3 separate regions of the Homo sapiens genome follow, and all the other regions are linked to region 2. The links come from fine-mapping of genetic effects on gene expression. A gene starts in region 2. Each other region holds a variant in brackets. All regions are shown on one strand. Distances are from middle to middle.

Region 1 (8,188 bases), 160 kb before region 2:
GAACAATTCAAATCTCTTAAGTCGGTTCAATTATGTTTAGCCTAAGGCCATCTCCTTACATATTTTAAGTTCACCCTAAATGTTTCTCTGTACATCCTGAACTATAAACTAAATGGAGTTGTAACCTACTCTTAGGCCAATCACCAAGTTTTGGCCAATCAGATGTGGCCAACTGTTCAAACCCTGTTCAAATAAGGCAAACACCAAGCTGTAACCAACCTAGCTGTTTCTGCACCTCACTTATGTTTTCTGTACATCACTTTGCTTTTTCTGTCCCTACATCCGTGGCTGTGCTGAAGTCATGGAGCCTACTCTGGCTCAGGAGGCTGCTGATTCATGATTCACGAATAGTTCTTTGCTCTATTAAACTCTCTTAAATTTAATTCAACTAAAGTTTTTCTTTTAACAAGTCTTAAAAGTGAAGCTGGGAAGCTTGCACCTATTAGCATCCAAATGGAAACACTTACTTGTGCTTGGGATAGAAACAATGTCAAAATAAGGAAAAGTGTGGATTAATAGAAAATAGATCTTTAGTGTATTCCTACTTTAGTTGCCATCCATTTGCTCCTCCATTTTCTATATTTGTATAGGTTAGAACCTCACACTTTGTATGTTAAATATTTGCAATGCCATGTAAAAGAAAGAACCTGGACATATACTAGTCTGCATTTGATTTCTGACTTCCTGTCTATGTGACTTTATTCAGTTAATTTAATTTTTCTCAACTTCAATTCCATTGAATACAAAATGGGAAATTGATACTTTTTGTATAAATTTGTTATGAATATATTAGAGAAAATGAATTGCACATAAACAAAAGCCTAGTGACAAATAAATGGCACTCATAACAGATCCGCAACTAAACATCAACAACAACAGTAATTATCAATTGTGAGTACTTTCTTTGAGCCGCATCTTTACAAATGCTATCTATTTCAGCTGTCAGGTAAAGATTAGCAAATGCTATTGCCTTGTTTTTGCTGCTGTTTTGTTTTGCCCTTATTGCCCCAAGTTTACACATAATATATTCTCTTAAGTTAAATTTTTAGATTGGGAGAAAAGGTCACTGATATTCTGGAAAGAAAACAAAACAAAACTTAAAAGGACTACACTCATTCCAACCTCCACATCCGCCTGCCAAGAACAACAAACCTCCCTTCCAGCTTCTCCCTCCTGAGCAGCTGACATAGTTTTACCATCAGGCTCTGTAGCCTCCTCATTCCCCAAAAGTTACACATTACTTCTTTGTCTTCACTGTGCCTCCTCTCTGTCCCTTTCAGAGTTCAGGCAGCTACCCCTGCCTGATATGCCTCTCAGTCGATATCAGTTGTTGTAGACATATCTTTATTTGTTTCGGTAAGAAAAGCTTCAGATTGACCACTAACCAAGGATCATGGAGAGATTCACTGGCCCTCTCAGGGCCTGCTGCTGTTAAGTTTTGGGTGAGGTCTGTCCGGTCTGTTTGCCATTTCCATCCACCAACCCCATCTATTCACTGCCGACGTGCATGGGCATGTTGCCATGTCAGAGGTACCACAAGAAATATTTATCTTCTGAGGCTAAAAAAAAGCATAGAATTATTTCCTTTTGAAATTGATGAGCTCCATTCTTGGGTCATCAGTTTTGAACTTGACACAGCAGAGAAACAGAGAACAGTGGCTCCATTTGTCGGCTGCAGCCTTGCTCCTTGACAAACCTGAGGGCAAGTTCCTCAGGCTTGTTGAGAAGGTTTGTGCTCCAATCCCTTCAACCTTGCAAACTAAATGACATATTACACACATTTTAAAAATGAAGAAAAGGAAATAAAGAGTGATAAAGTAACTACCCATGATCATGTTACCGGAAAGGGGTCCAGATCCAGGCCCCAAAAGAGGGTTCTTGGATATCACGCAAGAAAGAATTTGGGGTGAGTCCACAGAGTAAAGTGAAAGTCAGTTTATTAAGAAAGTAAAGGAATAAAAGAATGGCTACTCCATAGGCAGAGCAGCGGCATGGGCTGCTCAACTAAGGATACTTACAGTTATTTCTTGATTATATACCAAACAAGGGCTGGGCTGTTTATGAGTTTTCCTGGACAGGGGTGGGCAATTCCCCGAACTGATGGTTCCCCCCTTTTTAGACCATAGAGGATAACAACCTGATGTTACTATGGCAACAGTAAACTGTCATGGTGCTGGTGGGTGTGTCCTTTAGCATGCTAATGTGTTATAATTAGCATATAATGAGCAGTGAGGACGACCAGAGATCTCTTTCGAGGTCATCTTGGTTTTGATGGGTTGTAGCCAGCTTCTTTACTGCAACCTGTTTTATCAGCAAGGTCTTTTTGACCTGTATCTTGTGCCGACCTCCTGTCTCATCCTGTGACTAAGAATTCCTTAACCTCCTGGGAATGCAACCCAGTAGGTCTCAGCCTTATTTTACCAGCCCCTATTCAAGATGGAGTTGCTCTGGTTCAAACACTTCTGACAATCACACAGCTAATGCGCTGTTCCACTACACCAGTCTGACTCTATGTAAGCACTTAATACATAGTTGTTAAATAACTAGGTGTGCTAGATTTGGAGCAGAGAGCTGAATATGTAAAAATGAATACAGCCTAAGCCCTCAGAGCATAGGGCACATAAGTCTGTGTGAGGGAATAAATAGGGTAAGTTCATAACCAAGCAAGATAGATAGATAATAGATAGAGAGAGAGATAGACAGATTTAATGAATCTATCACTATAAGTGCTTTGAGAGAAGTCTCTACAGTGCACAAGGAGAGTATAAATGAGGGAATGGCATTTCTTTGGAGGTTAAGGTTTAGTTTTCTAAAGGGAAATGATGGCCAATGTCTGCTTTTTGTTTACTTTTTTTGTTTTTTGGGCTTTTTTTTTTTTTTGAGATGGGGTCTCATTTTGTCTCCCAGGCTGGAATGCAATGGTGTGATCATGGGTCACTGCATCCTTGACCTCCCTGACTCAAGCAATCGCCCGTCTGTCTCAGCCTCCCGCGGTGCTGGGACTACAGTCATGAGCCATCATGTCTGGCCTGCCAAGGTCTGTTTTGAGAAGAGTGAATATGGGGATCTTACACTGTGCAATATTTGAAATATCTAGAGGAAACATTATATAATGCAGTAGAAAATGCTTGAAAAAAACGTGAAGTATCTTGACAGCCCACTAAAAACACTGTATGATTTGTTTTGCCCTATATTGCAGTACTTCGGTGGCTTTAGCTGAATACGGTTCATCACAAGCCAACCTGTTAACATGCAGATGTGAACAAATGATCAAATAGAACTGAAGTTTATGGCCATTGCTTAACTCTTAGAGAATAAAAGGCAATAGCATTTCCCGATTATGAAGAATTCTACCTTTGTAAAAAATTAAACAAATGAAATTGTATCACTTATTTTCTAAAGGAATAAATTTAGAAAATATCACCTTTGGTCATAGTTGTCACCAGAACTGAATTTAAAATATTCATTCACTATCATTGCAGCCTGTACAGTCACTACAGTCTATGGTTTAAATATGGCCATTTTAAATTTGGGGGGTTTTGTTTTGATAATCACAAATAACTTTGATAAATGGTCAAATTTCACTTTTTTTATGTTTACCACATTTATTGGGTATTTTCCAATGTACCAATGCTGAGTCTTTTGGAACTGTCATTTGTAGCTGGTGCTTGTTTGACATGTGGAACCCAAAGACAGCAGAACTCTCTGTGGTCCCCATCCTAGTGCCCCCTCCCCACCCCTGCATCATTCCTGTGCCCCTCTAGGGGATGTGGCCAAGACTTTTGGAAGCCAGTGCCTTCCAGCTATAACAGTGTTGATATTCTGATATATTTACCAAGGCTCTAGTTTATACACAATCAGTTCTTCTCAAGTTGCCTCCTGCACTTATCAGTGGGACTGAAACACAACATAAAGACTACTGTCAATATTAAAGTTTTTGGCAAAGAGTGTGCACCTGAATCATCTTCTTTGTGCAGGGAGGTAGGATTAGGCACTGGGTTTGTCACAGAGCAAGCTGTTGTAAAGAAGTGAAGTGGATCCTGGAGATGGTTCTGTTGCAGTGGCAGTACAGTATCTCACCAGGTAGTGGCTGGAGTTGGCTCCAAGTCTCTGGCAGGGGAACACCTTGACACACGTCTGGGGTCGCTGGCACTCCCTTCCTCTCTGACTCCAGCCTTAAGGTGAAGAATTCCATGTAGCTTCTTGTCCTTTCCCCTCAGCTGTCTTTGCTTCACAAGGTTTTAGCCCAAATAAAGAGTACAAATCCCAAAGCCACATAGAAATGAACTTTCTGCTAACTGGAAGCTTTAAGTGAGTAAAGGTACTTTATAATGAAAAATGCATACATTTAGTTTAGGAAAACTGAGATGTTAACATGTACCTGGTGAAATAAGAAGAAAT[A/G]TCATCCTGATAATTCTCAAATTTTCTTCCCCTACAAGCACTGATCTCTAGCAAAGTGGGAAGAATATGTAAACTTCACTGTCATCATATAACATATTTCTGTTTATTAGGTGATTTTGTAGATAGTTTCAGTTTCATATTTAATATTATTTTATTTTCTGTTTATTTTTTAAATTAATTCTTGGCTCAATTTGGATCATGTGCTTTTAGAAAATTATTTTAATTATGATAGGAGACTTAAGTTGGTTATTTAGAGAGGACTCTGTTTGTTTACAGTTTTATGATCCTTCTCAAATGCTTTAAGAAACTGAAAGCCTGTAAAGCTTTCATGCATACTGTGAACTGCACACTTCAGTTCACAGAAGAGATTTAATTAGAATATGTTGATGATGAGCAGTCCATCTTTTTCATGTAGTATAATTTATTAGACATAAAGGTGGCATTATTTATACTGTTCAACCATACTTACATATATGCAAATATGAATTTAATTTGATTGTCTTGTTTAACCCTTGAAAAGCACTGAAGCCATCAATAGACAACCTTTAAGATGCTTCAGGGGAAGAGATACTTTTCCCAATAAATGTTATTGCCCTTCTGTCATTAGTAATTAGTATTTTAGCTTCATAGCTTGTTCTTTTGTCTAATATATTTCTGTAAATCTTTCATTCTCTAGCCAATCAATCAGAAGAAATTTTTAAGAGTTGATGGATGGTATGTGTGTGTGTGTGTTTTCACATAAATCAAAGTTGTACAGCAAGTTTGATTGTCATGCTGAGCTTGTCAAAATTAATCTAAGATTTATCATAAAGAAAAAAATGATTTTTTTCTGTTATATAGTTTGTGAGTTAACATAGAATGGTGGAGTAAGTAGCCTTTAGAATATACTTCCAATTCAATTAGTCCTAAGGTTTATATTACATTAAAGTAAAAATTCTCTGGACACAAACAAATATTAAGAATATATATAGTATTCTGAAAAATATGTTAATAAACTTCATTTTAATTTTATTAAATAGCACATTTTCTGTTACTTAATATTATTTAGAGAAGCAGGAGAATGAGAGCAATGAACACATGTCAGATGAGCAAGTAGAGAGGAAATTAAAGGACTAAAGGCATTGTTTCTGAAAATAAAAAAACCAGGCTATGGTCATACTGCCCTGAATGCGCCCAAACTCATCTGAAAACAAACAAACAAAAAAAAACAAACAAACTTTAAAACCAAATTTTAATATACGATAATAAAATTTAAAAAACAGAGAGAAAAAATCCATAATGTTCTCAATGGATGGTGAACAAAATGAAAACATGGTTTGATTTAGTTTGGTTTTTGTAAGAAAATGGAGTAAATTTTTCATCCAAACTCCAAATTCAATTTTGTTTAAATGTCTCTGATCTGTCCTTTAAAATGGGTGATTTCACTCAGTCTCTTAAAACACAAACACGCACAGAGCAGGAGCAACACCCCTACTCTGCAGTTGGGTAGTTGTTCTCCAGATTCTAAAAACAACAGCAAAAACAAGTTATATGAGGCCTGTTCATGTATATTACCTGATTTGGTCCTGCTGAATATAGAAGAGGCTATCTTTGCTTTGAACAAATGACACATTTTGTGATTCATTTTTAGAGCCTAGGAGAGGAAATAGACAGCAGTTGCTTTGAAACAGAGAAAGAAGACAGCCCACTCCTAAGAAATAAACCAAAGATCTCTAGAAAGTGCCACTGGGGTTGGGTTGACAAGGAAGTTAATGATAAGTGACAATAAAAACAACAATTAAAAACCTGAATTTATCCTAAGCATTTATTTCTTTTAAAAGACACTCTAACATCTTTTATTGTTTTAATTGAAGAGCTATATAATTTTCCTATTTAAATCTATTTTATTTCTCTTGCCTATTCACAAGCTCAAACAGAAGTCTTCTCCTTTTGCTATGTGTTTTTTTCTCCTTTACAAATTGGACTTCTTTATTACCAGCACAAAGCTTTAAAAATCCACATAGACCAGAGTGACCACTTGACTCATTTTTCAGAGATAACAACACTAAGCTCTTTTTATTTTTCTTTAGTTGCACTGGTGATTATCATAGATCACATTGCTTGATAGATACATAAGGCATGAAAATTGTTGGCCACAATGTACTAGGGAATGGTAAGGAAGATACTCTGAGTCATAACTAAACCATGGGGTTTAATATTTTGTTTCATTAATTTAACAAATATATAGTGCATGCTATTCTACTAAGTATATACAGTTCCAGGAACTGAGAATACAGTAATAGTTATTGTTTATACAGTAATGAGGAAAAACTTAAAACATATAATTAATAAATGCTATATGGGACCAGGTGCAATGGCTCATGCCTGTAATCACAGCACTTTGGGAGGCCAAAGCAGGCACATCACTCGAGGTCAGGAGTTCGAGACGAGCCTGGCCAACACGGTGAAACTCCATCACTACTAAAAAAAAAACGAAAATTAGCCAGGTGTGGTGGCATATGCCTGTAATCCCAAGTTACTTGGGAGGCTGAGGCAGAAGAATTGCTTGAACCCAGGATGAGGAGGTTGCAGTGAGCCAAGATTATGCCACTGCACTCCAGCCTGGGTGACAGAGCAAGACTGTCTCAAAAATAAAAAAATAAAAAAATAAAACTCTGCATGGTCTGTCTCATAATACCACTAGAAATAGTCCTAAATTGTGAATTAACTATTTTAATAGATTTGCTTTTAAAGCTGAAACATATGAAACTTATAAAAGACAATAAAATCACATATGTACTGTTTTTATTTATTTACATATCTAGTTCTCCTATCACTAGACTAAGTTTTAATCCCCAGTAACTACCTTTGCAAAGCATAAAATAATCAAATACATATTCATTTAATCATTGGATTTAATTATAATCCCAAAATATTAACTTAGAAAACATAAAACTGTCAAACCTCAAGTATCCTCAATGTTAAAGCTTTTATTTTACTTTGAATTTCTTAAAACAGGTTCAACTTTCCCAATGCCACTTGGTTAGCAATTGGCAGAAATAAATAGAAATTTGGCTCTGCTCAGAACACATCCTTTTCATTGAAACTTTTTTTTCTATCAAGGCTTTTAGTTGAATTTTTTTCAAAGTGCCACAAATATAAAAGAGAATTAGCACTATATTTTAAATATAAAGCAATACAAATAAATAAAATTGGGTTGACTATTGATTAAACAACATTTCCAGTACCTTCTAAAACTTATTTTCTTGTGACATAACTTTTCTTCTGAAAGATTAATGCTAGCTAGAGATAGCTAGTTGTTTGCCAAACACTAGGTCGAGTTGGGTATTTCTGTGTACCGAAGGGTAGAGTTGCTCTGGAAACTGGCTTCTCTCACAGCCTTGCATGAAATTAGGGTCAGATGATTGGGTTCTGGCCAAGAGAATGTGAATGAAAGTGACATGAACTAGGACTTTTCAAACTTTCGTTTTCATAAAGACCACCTGAGAAACTAGTTAAACCATCTATTCCTGAACTCTACCAACAGTTTCTAATTCAGTAGGGCTGGAAAAAGGCTGGTTTGTGGGTAATGCTGATGCTATCTGCCCATGACTCACACACTGATATACATGACTACTACTTTGCCCATATCCAGTAAAAAAAAGAGATATTTTTAATAATATCATTATTTCTATGTTATGAACGAACAAAAAAGTAACCATCTATTTACAAGTAGATAACAACTGGTTATATTCTCTACCATCAATTTTTGTTGTGGACAATTACAAATTCCATTTATTTGTTTGTT
Region 2 (8,188 bases):
AATCCTATTGTTCCTCCTGCAGAAAACTCATTATCGAATTACACTAGAGTGTGATGCCAACACACCACACTGATAGTTCTCACAAGAATAAGCCCTGTAAACCTTTCATTTGCATTGTAAGGAGGCTACCAAAAACATTTTTTATTACCTCCACAATGAATTCCTTATGAGATCCTCCAGGAGAAAGCCCAGCCTGGACTTAAGACTAAAAATGTTATTACACGTCCTAAGTATTAGAAGCTGGTGGCTTCCAGTATAGTTTTACTGTTTAGAGTCCAAGGAACAAGCAATGAACGCATTCCTTCATTCATTCAAAATATTTATTGAGCATCTACTATGGGCCAGACTCTCTGCTAAGATCCAGAAATGCAATTCTAAAGAAAACAGGAAGTATCTTTGCCTTCACTGACCTAGAGAGTAGTGGGAAGGAACAGATGATTAAATAAATGATTATAATACAAATATGTATTATATAATATAATGATATAGAGCAAGCTGAAAAAGATGCTGGGTAACTAGGTAAGATCTGTTGCCTCCCTGGGTGGGCTGCAAGGCTCAAATAAAGTCAAACTCTGACCAACAGAATAGCAGTGCCCTAGAAGAAAGCTACACGCTTCCGTGGAAATCAGGGAAGAAAGACACAGTGAGAAAAAGACTAGAAATAGGTGGATGGGTAGAGATACTGAGAACCTAATGCTGTCTATACCATGACCAGAAGTGGTCTATTTATGTACTTTGCAACACTGTAACAGTCTGCTTGAGTAGAATTACATTGTGTAGAGTATTCATAACTATATGAAATCATTTCATGAGCCCCTGGAGAAACTGGCCTGACTTTGTGACTCTAAATGACTAAGTAGAAGAAGGTATCAAAGACAGAATGTTGTTTGAGATATAATCTTAGGGATTTTATTTATTAAATTGAGTCATATTAGTATAGCTTTATTAGTTTATTTCCATCACCACTACCATATGAAAGGAGAGAGAAATATCCAGGCTATATTGAGATCATAAACCCCGCCTTCAAATGAATTTTTGTTCTCAAAGATGCTGGAAATTCAGAGCAAAGAATTAAATATCTAAGAGGGATTGGGATTACAAAAGTTTAATTGAGCAGTTTTAGTCATAGTCCTATCACGTAACGAAGTAACACATGAGACTTGGAGATTATGTGAGGAATTCAATGAACTTGGTACCTCATGTGCTTGGTACAATAATAATAATAATAACCAATATTTATTGAAGGTTTATCTTGTGGCAAATACTGGTTCTAAGTGTTTTCCCTGTATTAACTAACAACAATCTCATATGGTAGGCAGTATTGTCATTTTACAGCTGAGGAAACTGAGGCATAAAGAGACATGGCAACATTTCCAAGTCGTATGATTGGTAAGTTCAAACCTAGTCAGTCCAACTCCACGGCCCAGGCTCTTAGCCACTACTGCATTCTCCCAATACAGTAGTCTAAGAGCGTCTAAGGGAAGCTCAAAGGACATATCAGAGAACTCTGCCTCAGGATATACACAGGAGTTCATCTTCTCCTCTCTGGGGCCTTTATGACATGAAAATGAATGGGATTTCAGCATAACAAGGGGGATCCTGTGCTCTACTCTGCTCAGAACAGTCAGTGTGGGCCTGTTGTCCCAATGCCCACCAGCATCTCCTTTCACGCCACACGGTTCCAGTTTGGATAATAAGTTACATATTCACCTAAGTCCAGTGGCTAAGAAGTTATGTTCTGAAGTTTGCTGGGTCTATAGTCAAAACCCAGCTTAGCCACCTACTAGCTGTGGGAGTTGAGGCCAATTACTTTGTCTCAATAAGCCTCAATTTTCTCATCTACTAAATGGAAATAATAATAGTCCCCACTTCATAGCATTGTTATGAAAATTCTAGGAGCCAACACATATGAATCAATTTGTATAATCCTTAGCAAATTGTGGGCACCCAATAAAAATTCATTTTTATCAACATTAGATTAAATGTTTGAGAAGGTTTCTTACATTGGCATAACTGTGGTGGACTGCTTTATAAACTTGAGACATCAAAGCATACCTGTGAATCTGGAGCACTTAGACAAGAACCACCATCAGTAGGGAATGTCCAATTTTTCTAAGTAAATCACTGGTACTTCCAGGGGTATCCATTTTAAAATGAAATTATAATGCTAAAGCCATTGGAAATGCAGTTGGGTCTCAGCCACTCCCAGGGATTTTAATCCATTCCATTCTAGGCTCCCTGGGAACCTCACTGAAATGCTAAATTTCATGGTAACATGGAGAAAGTTAAGTATCCTTTCAGCTTATAATCTCTTTGGGGTACATTTTAGCCTCTTGGGCCAATCTGGATTCAAAGTTGTAACTTCTGGCATCATTCTGCATTCAAACATAAGCCACTGACTCACTGTACTTTGTATTCGAGCCCTGGAATAGCTTTAATATTCAGAGAATATCCTTTATATGGCATGGGCATGACCGCAGACCAGTCCTTTTGCTGGCAACTGCAGTAACTGGCTACATGTGTTAGAACCTGCCAAAATGTTTGTCACCCAAGACGGGAGAATCTTGAAAGACAGACTCAATAGATCATAGTCAGGGGCTTGATAAAACCACACAGCTAGTTAGTATACATACTGAACAAATCACCAATTTTTGCTCATTCTTTTTATTTGTTAAATAAAGAGGTTAAATCCATTGAAAAAAAAAGGGGGGGTTAAACCTAACATGGTCTGGCTCTGCGCGGCTTAAGAAGATTCCATCTGCTCAAGAACGATAACCCGCTTCCCCCTTACTTTTAAAAACTTCTACTTCCTCCCATAGTAACCTATTTAATAGTATGCCTGACTGTCAGCAAGTTCTTTGCCTCCAGCCTAGCTTCCTCTCCTCATCATGCAAATTGCCGTTGGCTTTAATTAGATTTAATAAGCCACTGGGAAGTGAAGCGAGGGAAATGGAGAGCAAAGATTATACAGTATGGGCTTACTCTTGCATGTCCAATACAGCATTTCCCTGGAACTCTCATATCCTCCCAGGCTGGGAAAATAAAGAATGCCAAGCGCATGGAAAGACACGCTGCTGCTGCTGCTGTCCAAATGTGAACCGTGGGTGGAGAAAAATCATTTAGAAAAAGAGAGTGAGGGAAAAAAGAAAATGAACCAGAATCCCCAACAGCTGCAAATAACGAAGCATGTGAATCTGTTACCTTGGATGAACTCTGCTTTCCTGCTCACAGACGGCAGGGTCCTGTTGAGCCCCAGGATCCTGTCTAGGTGGAAGGCAAACACCTCACTCATGTCCAAGGGCTGCTTGAGAAGCCCACAGGGGCTAGGGCCACAGCGGAGCACAGCGCCAGGTGCGCCCCCCTCCAGCACCAGCAAACGGGCTCCGCTCCTAGAGGACACAGGCCGGAGCCCTGCCACTGCGCTGTCCGCCAAGAGTCGCATTCTTCGGATGTCATCTTTGCTCAGCCAGGAGGGGGCGCTCTCGCTGTAGATCCTAATGTTGCTCTCCCTGGAGCTGGGCTGCAGGAAGTCTGGGCCCCCGGCTCGCACTCCCGGACCCCGCACCAACCTCCAGGGTCGCTCTCCAATCTTAACCAGGTTTGCTCCCTGAGCGTACCCAGGTGCTACAGCATCAGCTTCCCTTGCCGCTTCCTGCGGCTGAAGGGATGGTCCGACCAAAGCCTCCTGCCCTGGGGCAGCCGATGCCACTGCATGCTTTTTCCTGCGCTTGGGCTTCACGGTGCCACGGATATTGGCCGGCTTGCTGCGCTTGGAGCGTAGGGTAATGTACACCACATTGGGCTGCAGAGTGGACCCATTGCCCTGGGACTCTGGAGGGGCCAGGGTACCATCCAGGGGTATCTCAGGGAAGGATGGCTCGGCGGTGTCGCGGCTGCGATGTGGCCCCTTCTCAGCCGCCTGTCCATGCTGGAGAGAGGCCCTCCCCACCTGGCTCACCAGGAAGCCCAAGTAGATGGCACACGCAGTGCCCAGCAGAAGGTTTCTCCGGGTCCTTGGACGCCGGCTGCTCCAGAGCTTACGCACCCGCGGGACGCACAGGGAGCAGATGAACCAGTTTATGAGCTGCCCCGGCTTGTCTGGACAGGTCATTTCTCTGCCGCATCCACATGTTGAACGGAGTTTAAAGTCTGCAGTTGGCTCCTGCTAATGTGATGCATGGTTTCCTGACTTCAGCTGCCGCGTCCGCTTCGGGATATAAGTGGTCTCCAGTGGGCAGAGGTGGAAGGAAAGGGTTGGTGATGAAGCTGGGAATGTTTCTGACACAACAAACCTTTTAAATTATCAGTCTCCCCAAGGAGAAATGCGGCTTGTTTCTGGGAATGAATGGATACAGAGTTAACTGAGTCACAATTTCAAACCATTTAAGTTCCTCTACAAGAGTCAAGAAAAAAAGTAATCATTTCCTTTCATAAATATCACCACTAAATGTTTTTAAAAATAAAATTTAAAAGCATGCAAACGAGATAGATGTATAGATTTGATAGTCACTTGAAAGTAGTGAAAACAAGCCACAAAAATCCAAGAGTGTTTTATAACTTGTACCTAGAGTCATTTAAGTTGACTCTGAAGCAAAAGCGTTAAAATGTGACAAACCTGGGCTTTTCCTTTTTGAAATTCAGAAAGAACTTAAGACAAGTAATAGATAATTTTTTAATACTCTATACCTATACCATTTTTATTTTTTAAAGTCCTGAATTAACTAAGTACAAGCAGCAAGTATTAACAATAAAATTTAGAAACATATTCTCTTAGTCTAAAGGTACAAATTGTACTTCATATTAATAATATGTTCCATTAGCTTACATTGTTAGTATAATACAAAGCCATAAATGTCCATATATCTTGGAAGCAGTTGCATTTATTCTGTTTCTCTCTCTCTCTCTCTTTCTCTCTCTCTCACACACATACACACACACAACACAACACAACTCTGACTGCTTTTTATTTCTTTTCTTTCCACCGAAGTCAGCTGAAAGAAAATAAAAGCATCTCTAGTTCTGTTTTTTCACTATTAAAAAGAAAAAGAAGAAACTCGTAAGCAACCTTACTTACACAGCTGGCCCCATGCTTGGCTCCAGGAAGAATGTAATCCTTGACTCTAATGCAAAGAACTTTTAAAGGCTGAGGCATGTAAGTAGAACATATTTCATGGTCAAGAGTGTTCCACATTTCAAACATTTCAGTTCAGCTTTAAAAGCTCCCTTGAAAACTACTGATTGCAAAGCAAAACTTGGAAACTGACTGCTGCATGGTTTTAAGAGATACAAAGCTTTTAAAAACAATAGTTAACAAAATAAACTTTAATTTTAAATTCGGAAAAAAGAAATGCCGTAGAGAATCAGTTTTCATTCAAATAAATTTCCACTTATTTTTAACCCCTGGGAGCCCTCTAGTGTCCTGTTCGCAAACAGACTCAGAAATGTCAGTCTCATGAAGTTCAAAAGATCGAGAATGTTTGCTATCTTGGTGGAGCAGCCGCAGCCAAGCAAGTAACTTGTAAAATGAGGAATGCCATCACCCCTCGAGTGTCCATCCCACATAACTTGGGGTTAGAGCACAAGCGTTCCCAGGAACTACTCACCTTACCATCTTGGCCGTTTCATTTGTCTTCCACCAGTTCTGGAAAGAGAAGGCCTAGAAGTTCAGAAAAAAAGGTAAGAAAGAGTTAATATAAATGAGGAGAAAAAATAGAACAGTGAGATAAGAGTACACACAGATAAGGAAAGACATTTATAGTGTGCAATTGCACGGTGCAACAGTTCACAAAAGGAAGTCGTGGATTCTCTCTGATTGGAGGTTTTTTGAAAAAACAGGTTAGGGATTGGCCTGGGTGGTTTGCGTGTCCTAGCACAAAGGCAGGGGCTGATGACCTTGGGGTGTCAATTAGACTATGGCAAATAGAATCAAAAGGCAAGAAGACAGAAAGGGGACAGGGATTTTTCCTCCCCACAGAGAAAGAAAGTTGTGATACTGAAGAGTGGGTAAAAGATTAGCATATGGTGTATAATCCTAAAAATACTATATTTTACAATGCAAAAAGAGCAAGGAGTTGGAATATATAGGGAAGGAGAGAATAAACGTCCAAGTGGTAAATTGACAAAAATTATAATCGGGCTGTTATTTCAGCACTCTAAACTCAGTCCTTTTTTCCTCTTTAAAAGTCCTGCCACATGGAGGAATGAGAAGGAGCAATCCCAATATTGACAGTAGCCTGGAAGTACCTGGATATTTTGGCTAAACTTTGTGAGAATTCAGGCATCAAAACAATTTTATCTGCACTCAAAAACTCTTAGGCACACACTTCCATACACACAGAATTATTTTCTTGATAGAAAATGTGAACTTCTTGCAAGGAAACCATACCAAAGCTGCATTTTATAACCATCTTATTATTTCCACAGTCAAAGGAATAACTGACCTGGCTCTATAACAATTAAAAGTAAGCCTTTGGCAGAGGCCAGTTATAATAAGCAGACATCTCCTCTAGCTGTTTTTAGAGCTATTTTTTTCATGGAGAAATGCCTACGAGATAGGGAGAGTTGTGTGAGTTAGTAAATTTCGTTGACTACCTTCCCACCCCCACTCCAAAAATGTCTCCTAGAAAAAGAACAATACACTGTCCCCTGCTATAGCCACAATAGGGATTCGTGGAGGCTACACTATCTACTCTGAACTATGATATTCAGAGAATGGGCTGAAGAGGGAGGCAGACTGGCTTTAAATTCTCCTCATTTACCTCTTACGTGTGGTCCCCTGTGGCAAGTAATCTTACCTCTCTAAGCCTCAGTTTCCCCCATGTGTAAGAAAAGAAAAATAATAGCACTTACCCTATCGGTTTCTTCTGATGACTGAATGAGATAGCAGCCTTGGAATGATCATTTGAAATATTCAGCAATGTGTTTGTTTTTATCCCCCATGATGCCTCATTAAACTGCTCAGAGGCCTCTCTCCTCAGCCCAGGCCTTGACAGATAGTCACCACTGCACCACAGCAAAGCAATCATGGTAGAATTGAGGACAAGCACACTGAATTATTTGTAGCCAACATATTGATATAGCCAATACAGTGGATAAATGGGGCTTGTCAGATATAATCAGAGCACAATTTTAGTGATTCCCCCCACTGCCCATTGAAACCTGTTCTGTGGCCTGATATCTCTTTTCAACTTTCTTAAATGGAAACTCAGGCAGTCCCCATGACTTTTCCAGTCATACTTAAATTTTTGTAAAAGTTCTCCAGTTGTTAGCCATAGACATACAGACACATAATACACATAAACTAATTAATATGTTTGATTCTATATCACAGTCAATTTCTTTAAAAATTTCTTTTAAATTCCCAGAATTTCTCCAGAAGATAGCAGTCCCTCAAAAAGCATAGCCAAAATCTACTGAAAAGGGACAGAGGAGACCCATCTTACATTCTTTTTTGTTCCTGCCTAGAGCTCTTATTCCTTAACCACTCACCCAGCCGCTCACCCCACTTTGAGCCTGGCTCTGGCTGTTCCAAGGTAGTGGAGAGAGAGAAGCAATAATAGCAGAAATGGCCTTGCTACTCCATTGATACTGCTGCAAATTGACTTATAAGCTCTCCAGGTTTGGCAGGTGTGTAAAGCTGACTCTGAGATAGTTAATTCAAAGACACCACTATCAAAGCATCTCTCTAGCTGGCTGTTGATGGCCCCTTAGTCCCTTGGAACTTGGTAGCCCCCTGTTCTGTTGAGATCACCTCATCTCTCCAGGCTGTTCTCTTAGGCAGCATTTAAGCTGACCTGCAGGCTGGTTTTCTAACTTGGGCCTCTGTGTACTGCCCCACAAGTGATCCAGTGGACATGGTCACCATCATTTGCTCCAGCAACCTCAGACTTCCCAATGCAGCAACCCACCTCCCTTAGCACTGCGGATCCATATCTCATTTTCGAATGTGGAAGCAATTGCCATCAATTGCTCATGGTCTCTGTTGAAACTGAATGGAAAGGTGTTTTTTGCCATCAGGTAGCATGGGAAACAGAGAAGTTTAATTTAGTTTTAGAAAAATAAGGCTAAATTCCTTGAACAAGCGTTAGCTTGAAAATTTGTTGCCACAATATAACATTCGTGTATAACTTACAATATAATCTGTGAGTGAACATATAGAACTCAAAGTATTCATTATTATTAATATTAT
Region 3 (8,188 bases), 33 kb after region 2:
GAGCTGGTTGTTAAATAGAGCCTGGCGCCTCCCTCCTCCCTCCTTGCTTTCTCTCTCACCGTATGATCTTAGCACATTACACCTCCCCTCACCTTCTGCCATGAGTGGAAGCAGCCTGAGCCTCTCACCAGGAGCAGATGCTGGTGCCATGCTTCTTGTACAGCCCACAGAGCAGTGAGCCAAATAAACCTCTTTTCCTTAGAGATTGCGCAGCCTCAGATGTTCCTCTAGAGCAACACAAAATGGACTAAGACAAGAACCATAGGTCCATTTCACAGTACAGAGCTGAGGTTGACCCCTTTTATACACAACCATACTTTCTTAGAGCCCATAGAATATCATTTCATTTACATCACACCTAAATTCCACTCTTTAGCAAAATCTTATGTTAACCCTATATTTTCCTTTGTTTGATGAGATACCCCACAATTGCTCTGTTGTGCAGTCCCCACACTGCAATGAGTCAGTAAACTCAATTGGTTTGTTTACAGGTTGTCCCTGGTGGTTTTAGGCTGATTGGGCTAAGACAAACCACATCTTATTTTTTAAATGTCTCCTTTAAGCAAATGTTATTATCTGTATTTTACTCTATTCCATAAGCAGAAGTGACAAAGTAGTCTAATTTTACCAAAAGATGCTTATAGCATAAAACTTTCTATGCTGTAAACATAGAAAGTACTTGAAATCAAAAAGAAAAAATTACTGTCCTTAAAATGAAAAAAAATATACACACAGAGTTGGGGTTTTTTCACTTTACTAAAGCTCAGGCTGTGCTTATTACAATAGAACAGTGATCAAAACTACAGCTTTTTTTCCTCCTTTATAATATGACCAAACAAGGGTTAGTGGCAATGAGCACTGCATCACTTAAAAGATACTGAAAAACTTGAAATACTGATGAACCTCTAACAAACACCTTCTTCCCAATCCTCACTCTTGACCTATGACCTTGTTTCCTTTTCACTGAGAAACAGAGAAAAAATTAGATGAGAATGTGTACAAGCTCTCACCACAAGATCTTCCTACCTCCTCTAACTGCACCTATATACTATTACTATCAAAGATCCCTCTGTGTCCCTAACAAAGGCTATTTCCTCTCCTTTTGCACTAAATTCCATATACTCATGCCTATGGGGAGACATTGTTCCAGTAATTATCTCCTTTCCTCTGCTTGGGTCAGCCTCTAGGATGGACCCCCATGATCCCCACCTCCTGGTATCCGCGCCATGATGCAATCTGCTTACAGCCTAAATCAGGATGAACCATATGACTCATAGAACACTGCAGAAGGCATGATGTGTGACTTCAGATGTGAAGTCATAGAGGACAAGGACACAGCCACCTTCTTGGATTTCTCACTCTGTGGAAGGGCAGTGACATTCCATGAGACAAGCAGTCCTGTGGTGAGGCCCATGTCAAGAAGGCCTGAGATCTCCCACCATCAGCTACAGCCAATTTGTCAGTCACGTGAGTAAACCACCTGGGACGTGAATCCTCTCGACTTAACCACCTCTTCAGGTGGCCAGAGCCCTAGCCCAGGTCTGACTGCAACCTGATGAGAAACCCTGAGTAGGAAGACCTGCTTGAGCTGCTCCCAAATTATTGATCCACAGACACTATGAGAGATAATACGTACTTAGTGTTCTTTTAACCCACTACATTTTGGTTGGCTGTATTTATTACCCTGTAACAGATGACTAATACATCTCCTGTGATCAAAACACTTCAGAGGTTCCCCATTTCTCTCAGAGAAATATCCAAAGTCCATAAGGCCTGTGAGGCCCCTCACATTCTTCCCACCCCCATTACCTCTCTAACTCCATTTTCTACCACTCTCCTTCTTTCCACCTCAACCACAGCTACAGTGACTTCTTTGCCCTTTCTCAAATCTGCCTCAGGGCCTCTGTACTGGACACTCTCTCCCCACTCCCACTCCCTCCTCCAGGCCTTCACTGAAATGTCTCCCTCTCAGTGAGGACTTCCTTTCCTAAACTGCAGTACCCCCAACCTACACACACACACACACACACACACACACACACACACAGAGTCTCTAGTCTTCCTAGCTCCTTAATTTTTTTTTCCTTAGCACATATCACTATTTCATATACCATATTTGTCATCTATTTTCTGGTTTCCCTTTCTCAGATGTAAGCTAAGTTGGTGCAGGGGTTTTTGTCTGTTCCCAATGTCTAGAAGAGTGTCTGATTTACAGTAGACACTCCATGAAATTTGTCAAATGAATACACCAGTGTTAAGAGTATAAGAGTGTAATAGTACCTTTAAAAATGCCTCAAAGATAAATCTTTTGATTTATCTTTATTTTTAGATCTCTACCCCCACTTTAGCCACTTCTGAAATTTACTACTAGAAAAACCTTTTCTTTCGTGAAGAACTGTCTCACAAAAATAGCAGTTAAATAGGAAGCTATCCTAACCCACTGTTTGCCTTTTCCCTTGTGAAACTCAGACCAAAATTGAAAGTCATCTATTGTAACTATGTGTTCTTGGCATCTAAACTCTGTTTTGTTTCATCTTGACTTTCTTAATTTCCTAGGTTTTTTCCTTTGTTCCTATTATTTTATTGTTTTTATTCTATATTGCTTCAAAGACTTTATGAAATTAAGTAAATTATAAATACAAATATAAGTAAGTATACTAGTCTTTTCTTAAGCTCACAACAAATTATTACAGGTATCTTTGATTCAGTTTATTATAATTACAGAATTGTAAACTTTTCAAGGAATAAATCTTTAAAATCAACAAAGGTAATATTTTTATTATTTATTGGGATATTCTTTTTTTTCTTTTTTTTTTCTTTTTTTTTGAGACAGAGTATCGCTTTGTCACCCAGGTTGGAGTGCAGTGGCTCAATCTCAGCTCACCTCCCAGTTTCAAGCGATTCTCCTGCCTCAGCCTCCCAAGCAGCTGGGATTACAGGCGCCGCCACCACGCTTGGCTAATTTTTTGTATTTTTAGTAGACACGCGGTTTCACCGTGTTGGTCAGGCTGGTCTTGAACTCCTGACCTCAAGTGATCTACCCACCTCGGCTTCCCAAACTGCTGGGATTACAGGCATAAGCCACTGTGCCCAACCTGGGGTATTCTTATTGTAAAACATTTTACACGAAAAATATACTTTGAATCAGGAGAGAAACATTTCAACACAGCATCATTATTTCTCAGTAAAATGGCACATTTTTCCTAATTTCAGATTATTCTTGGAAAATTTTGTTTGCTTCTATGATATAATAAAATTCTGCTTGAAAATTAC[G/A]TGTTAAATTGATTCCTTCTCCATTTCCAAAAAACAGAGGAAGGGTTATTTTAAACAATAAAGTGGTTGATTATGTTATCCAATGAATCAGCAGGTTTTTTACTGCCTTCACCAGTCATCATTTCTCATTATACACAGAGATCCTCAAAATGAGCAGCAGATACACTCAGTCTGTAGGATCATTTAGCAACTCGGGGAAGGAGGGTAAGTAGCCTAGATTTTTTTAAAGTTCCCACACCCAAACATCTCAAAAGATCATAAAAAGATAAACAAGTGTTCAGAGATTAAATATGGAAAATATTGGTATTGGTTTTGATTCTATAGACAAAAATAAAATACCACTTGGCAGTAGATTTCTCACTTTTTAAGTATTCTTGTATTTGGTGAATGGGTAAAAAGATAGTCAAATGAGTTAAATATACATTTAAATAAATGGGCAAATATGTATTATCAATTATCAGTTATCAACCCCATCAATTATTTCATCATATCTAAATACATATAATATATATTCCTCGGCCTGTAAAGTAAACCAACCCCGTCAATAATCTCATTGTATTTAAATATCTATTTAATATATAAATGTTCTACATTAATATATTTAATATTTAATATGTTGGTCAATATTAAATATGTTTAATAAAGACATATTTAATAAATAATAAATATATTTATATTTCATGTTTGTATACAATATTAAATATATAAATATATATGCAAATATGATAAGATCATTTAGGGGGTTGGTTTCCTTCACCAGGCTGAGAAAATAGTTTAACTGCCATAAAATAATCACAAATTTAAAATAATGACATTTTCGCACACTATTTTCAGAGCAGTTTTAGATTTATGAAAAAAATCGAGGAGATAGGAATAGAGTTCTCATATAACCCCTCTCTACTCTCTCACAGTTCTATTAGTAACATCTGCGTTTGAGTTGTACATTTCTTACAGTTGATGAACCAATATTGGTACATTATTATGAACTAAAGTCCATTGTTTACATTAGAGTGCACTCTGTATGTTGTATAGCTCTATGGGTTCTGACACATGCAAAAGGCCCCAGATGTAGTGTATCTAGGTTAATGTTCTATACGAGCTTGAGAAGAATGCGTATTTTGCTGCAGTTGAATGAGATATAACTATCAATTAAACCCAGGTGATGATGGTACTGTTCACTTCTATTATATTCTTACTGATTTTCTGCCTGTTCGATTTGCCAATTACTAATAGAGGAATACTGAAAACCCCAACTGCAATAATCTATTTGTGTCTATTTCTCCTTGCAGTTTTACCAGTTTTTGCCTTACCTATTTTGACACTCTGTTGTGAGGTGCATACACAGGATTGTTATGGCTTATTGGACAGCTGGCCCCTTTATCATTATGTAATGGCCTTCTTTATTCCTAATAATTTCCTTGTCTGAAGTTTGCTTTGTCTGAAGTTAAAATAGTTATTCTAGCTTTCCTTTGATTAGTGTTAGAAAAATATATTTTGTTGGGCGTGGTGGCTCATGCTGTAATCTCAGCACTTTGGGAGGCTGAAGGAGGAAGGTCTCTTGAGTTCAGGAGTTCAAGACCAGCCTGGGCAACATAGTGAAACCTCATCTCTACAAAAAATTAAAAATTAGCTTGTTGTGGTGGCACATGCCTGCAGTCCCAGCTACTCAACAGACTGAGGTGGGAGGATCACTTGAGCTCAGGAGTTCACGACTGCAGTGTGCCATGACTGTGCCACTGTACTCCAGCCTGGGTGATAGAGTGAGACCCTGTTTCAAAGGTTAAAAAAAAAAAAAGGAAAGAAAAGAAAAATATAACTTTCTCCATTCCTTTTGTGTCTTTATAATTAACATGGATTTCTGGTAAACAACGTAGAGTTGATGCCTGTATTTTATTCAATCAGTCGTTGTCTTTTAATTGGTAGACCATTTATATTTAGTGATACTTGATAGAGTTGGATTAATATTTCCCATATATTAATTGTTTTCTGTTTGTTGCCCTTGTAATTATTTCCCTTTTTTGTCCTCCCCTCTTCATATGGTTTGGCTCTGTGCCCCTACCCAAATCTCACGTGGAATTGTAATCCCCATAATCCCCACCTGTTGAGAGAGGGACTTGGTGGGAGGTGATTGGGTCATGTGGGTGGTTTTCCCCATGCTGTTCTCGTGATAGTGAGTGAGTTCTCACAAGATCCCATGGTTTTATAAGGGGCTCTTCCCGCTTTGCTTCCTCTCACCTGCTGCCATGTACAACATGCCTTTGCTTCTCCTTCGCCTTCTGCCATGATTCTAAGCTTCCTGAGGCCTCCCCAGCCATGCAGAACTGTGAGTCAAACCTCTTTCCTTTATAAATTACCCAGCCTCAGGTAGTATCTTTATAGTAGTCTGCAAATAGACTAATATACCTCTTTTGCTCCCTTTTCTAGTTTTAATTGAGCATTTTATATGATTCTATTTTCTCTCCTCTCTTAGCATATCAATTATACTTAAAAATATGTTTTTAGAAATTGTCCTAGAGTTTGCAGTACACATTTACAACTAAGTCCACTTTTCAATAACACTATACCATTTCACAGGTAGTGCAGGTACTGTATAAAAGATTATTCCCAGTGCCTCTCTCCTGTTCCTTAAAGCATTGCTGTCATTTATTTCATTTATTCATAAACTAATATCACCCAATATATTACTGATATTATTATTTTGAAGTTATCTATGCGATCAATTAAGAATAAGAAACAAATTATAGGTTGGTGGATTTTTCTTTCAACACTCTAAATATTTCACTCTACTCTCTTTTTCCTTGCATGGTGTCTGAGAAGTCTGATTAATTCTCATCCTTGTTCCTTATAAGTAAGGTGATAGTTTTTCCTCTGACTCCTTTCAATATTTTCTCTTTATTTTCCACAATTTGTATACAATATGCCTACATGTAGTTTTTTTAAAATTTATCTTGCTTGGTGTTATCTGATCTTCCTGGATCTGTGGTTTGATGTCTGTTATTAATTTTAGAAAGTTGTCCACCATTATTAGATACCTAGATAACTATTATTTATGTATCTTCTGCTGCTTTCTTTCTTTTCCTTCTGGTATTGCTATTACCTGTATTTTATGCCTTTTGTAATTTTCATACAGTTCTTGGAAATTGTGTTTCTTTTTCCTATTCTGTTTTCTGTTTCCATTTAAGTTTGGGAAGTTTCAACTGACATACCTTCAAGCTCACTGATTCTTTTGCAGCTATCAAAAGTGATTCTCTTTTCTATTGTAGTATTTTTTGTTCTCTAACATTTCCTTTTGATTCTTTGAGTTTTCATCTTTCTGTTTATTCGTTCTTGCACTTTTCCCAGTTGATCTCTTAGCATATTAGTCATAGCATATTTTAAATTTCCAGTCTCATAATTCCCAAATCCCTGCCATATCTGAATCTGGTTCTGAGGCTTGCTTTGACATTTCAGAGCTGTGTTTTTTCTTGCCTTTTAGCATGCCTTATAATTGTTCATTGAAAGTGAGGCATGATGTATCAGATAATAGAAAACAAGATAAGTAGACCTTTAGTTTTTATGTGTATTGGGCCAGAAGTTAGACTGTGCTTAATGGTTGTTGTAGCTGTAAGTATCAGAGGCTTCTATTTTCTCTAATATCTTTCTTTTTGTCTCCCCTATTTGTTGTCTTTGGGTTTTCCTAGAGACTCATTTTTAAGCAGAGTCTGTGTCTTGCAACTCTCTCTAGTTGTGATCCACAGTTATTATACCAAAACACTATTTATGTGGTCGTAAGATATTGGAGAGTTGATACATTCTATAATGTTATGATAAAATCTCTATTTTTAAATTCTTATTTCTTTTTAAACAATTTTAGATTCAGGAGGCACATGTGCAGGTTTCCTACATGGATAGATTCTGTAATGGTGAGGTTTGGGCTTCTAGTAAACCCATCACCCAAATAGTAAACATTACAGCCAATAGATAATTTTCAATCTGCTCTCCTCTCCCACGTTTCCCTGTTTTGGAGTCCCTAGCATCTATTATTTTACCTTTATGTCCATGTGTACCCATTGTTTAGCTCCCACTTATAAGTGAGAACATGCAGTACTTGATTTTCTGTCTGAGTTATTTCACTTAGGATAATGGCCTCTAGCTCCATTCATGTTGCTGCAAAGGACATGATTTCACTCCTTTTTATGGCTGCGTAATATTCCATAGTTTATATATACCACATCTTCTTTATCCAATCAACTACTGATGGACACTTAGGATGATTCCTAATTGTGAATAGTACCCCAATAAATATATGAGTGCCAGTGTCATTGATTATAACAATTTCTTTTCCTTCAAGTAGATACCCAATAGTGGGATTGCTGGGCCAAATGGTACTTCTATTTTCAGTTATTTGAGAAATCCCCATACTGTTTTCCGTAGGGGTTTTACTAGTTTACATTGTCATTAACAGTATATACGCATTCCCTTTTCTCTGTATCTTTGCCAACATCTAAAACTCTGTTTTCTAGTTGTCCAGAATCCCTGAGCTGTGAACTTCATAAGGGTTTCTTCTTTTGTTTTTCTCCTTATGTGAGAAAGAAAGTGTAGAAGGTGTTCAAACTGTCTAGTTGCCTTTTCTCTAATTCAGATAAAGCTCTGGGGTAAAGTTTACCTTGAGGACAGGCTTTTGTTTCTGAGTATATTTCAAATAGTTATTGTTTTCCTCCCACATGCCAGAAAAAAGAGGAAACTTTTGTCCTGTCTTCTGAAAGTAAAACTCATTAATGTGTGGATGCTCCCATATGAATGACTCCCACTGTCTCTGAGTTTTCAACTCTCAAGTTAGTCCACACTCAGCCTTCAGCAATAGGCCAAATACTGTATAAATGCCCCCCTATCCTTTACTGGCTCCAGTGGCTTTTGCTGTCCTGATAAGCTGTAA

The links.
Region 1: its variant is fine-mapped to the expression of GASK1B-AS1 in whole blood (TOPMed, PIP above 0.99).
Region 3: its variant is fine-mapped to the expression of GASK1B-AS1 in whole blood (TOPMed, PIP above 0.99).

The regions. Positions count from the first base shown.
Region 1 is chr4:158,007,571-158,015,758 of GRCh38, forward strand. The region is part of intron 1 of LOC105377509 (a long non-coding RNA gene); the gene reads right to left. It overlaps LOC124900801 (a long non-coding RNA gene), which reads right to left and starts at 2,185. Exons shown (of 2, transcript XR_007058348.1): 1 at 2,019-2,185; 2 at 1,328-1,559. RefSeq lists a silencer at 8,147-8,188. The variant A/G (reference allele first, on the strand shown) is at 4,402.
Region 2 is chr4:158,167,265-158,175,452 of GRCh38, forward strand. GASK1B-AS1 (GASK1B antisense RNA 1) reads left to right here and starts at 3,488. Exons shown (of 5, transcript NR_147410.1): 1 at 3,488-4,216. GASK1B (golgi associated kinase 1B) reads right to left here and starts at 5,761. Exons shown (of 5, transcript NM_001128424.2): 1 at 5,604-5,761; 2 at 3,202-4,335. The coding sequence starts at 4,111. LOC101928007 (a long non-coding RNA gene) reads right to left here. Exons shown (of 4, transcript XR_007058350.1): 3 at 6,850-7,002; 4 at 6,424-6,544. RefSeq lists enhancers at 3,244-3,764, 3,938-5,137.
Region 3 is chr4:158,200,232-158,208,419 of GRCh38, forward strand. It overlaps GASK1B-AS1 (GASK1B antisense RNA 1), which reads left to right. Exons shown (of 5, transcript NR_147410.1): 5 at 1,181-2,646. Among named protein-coding and RNA genes, the nearest start is that of TMEM144, 6.2 kb to the right of the region's middle. The variant G/A (reference allele first, on the strand shown) is at 3,274.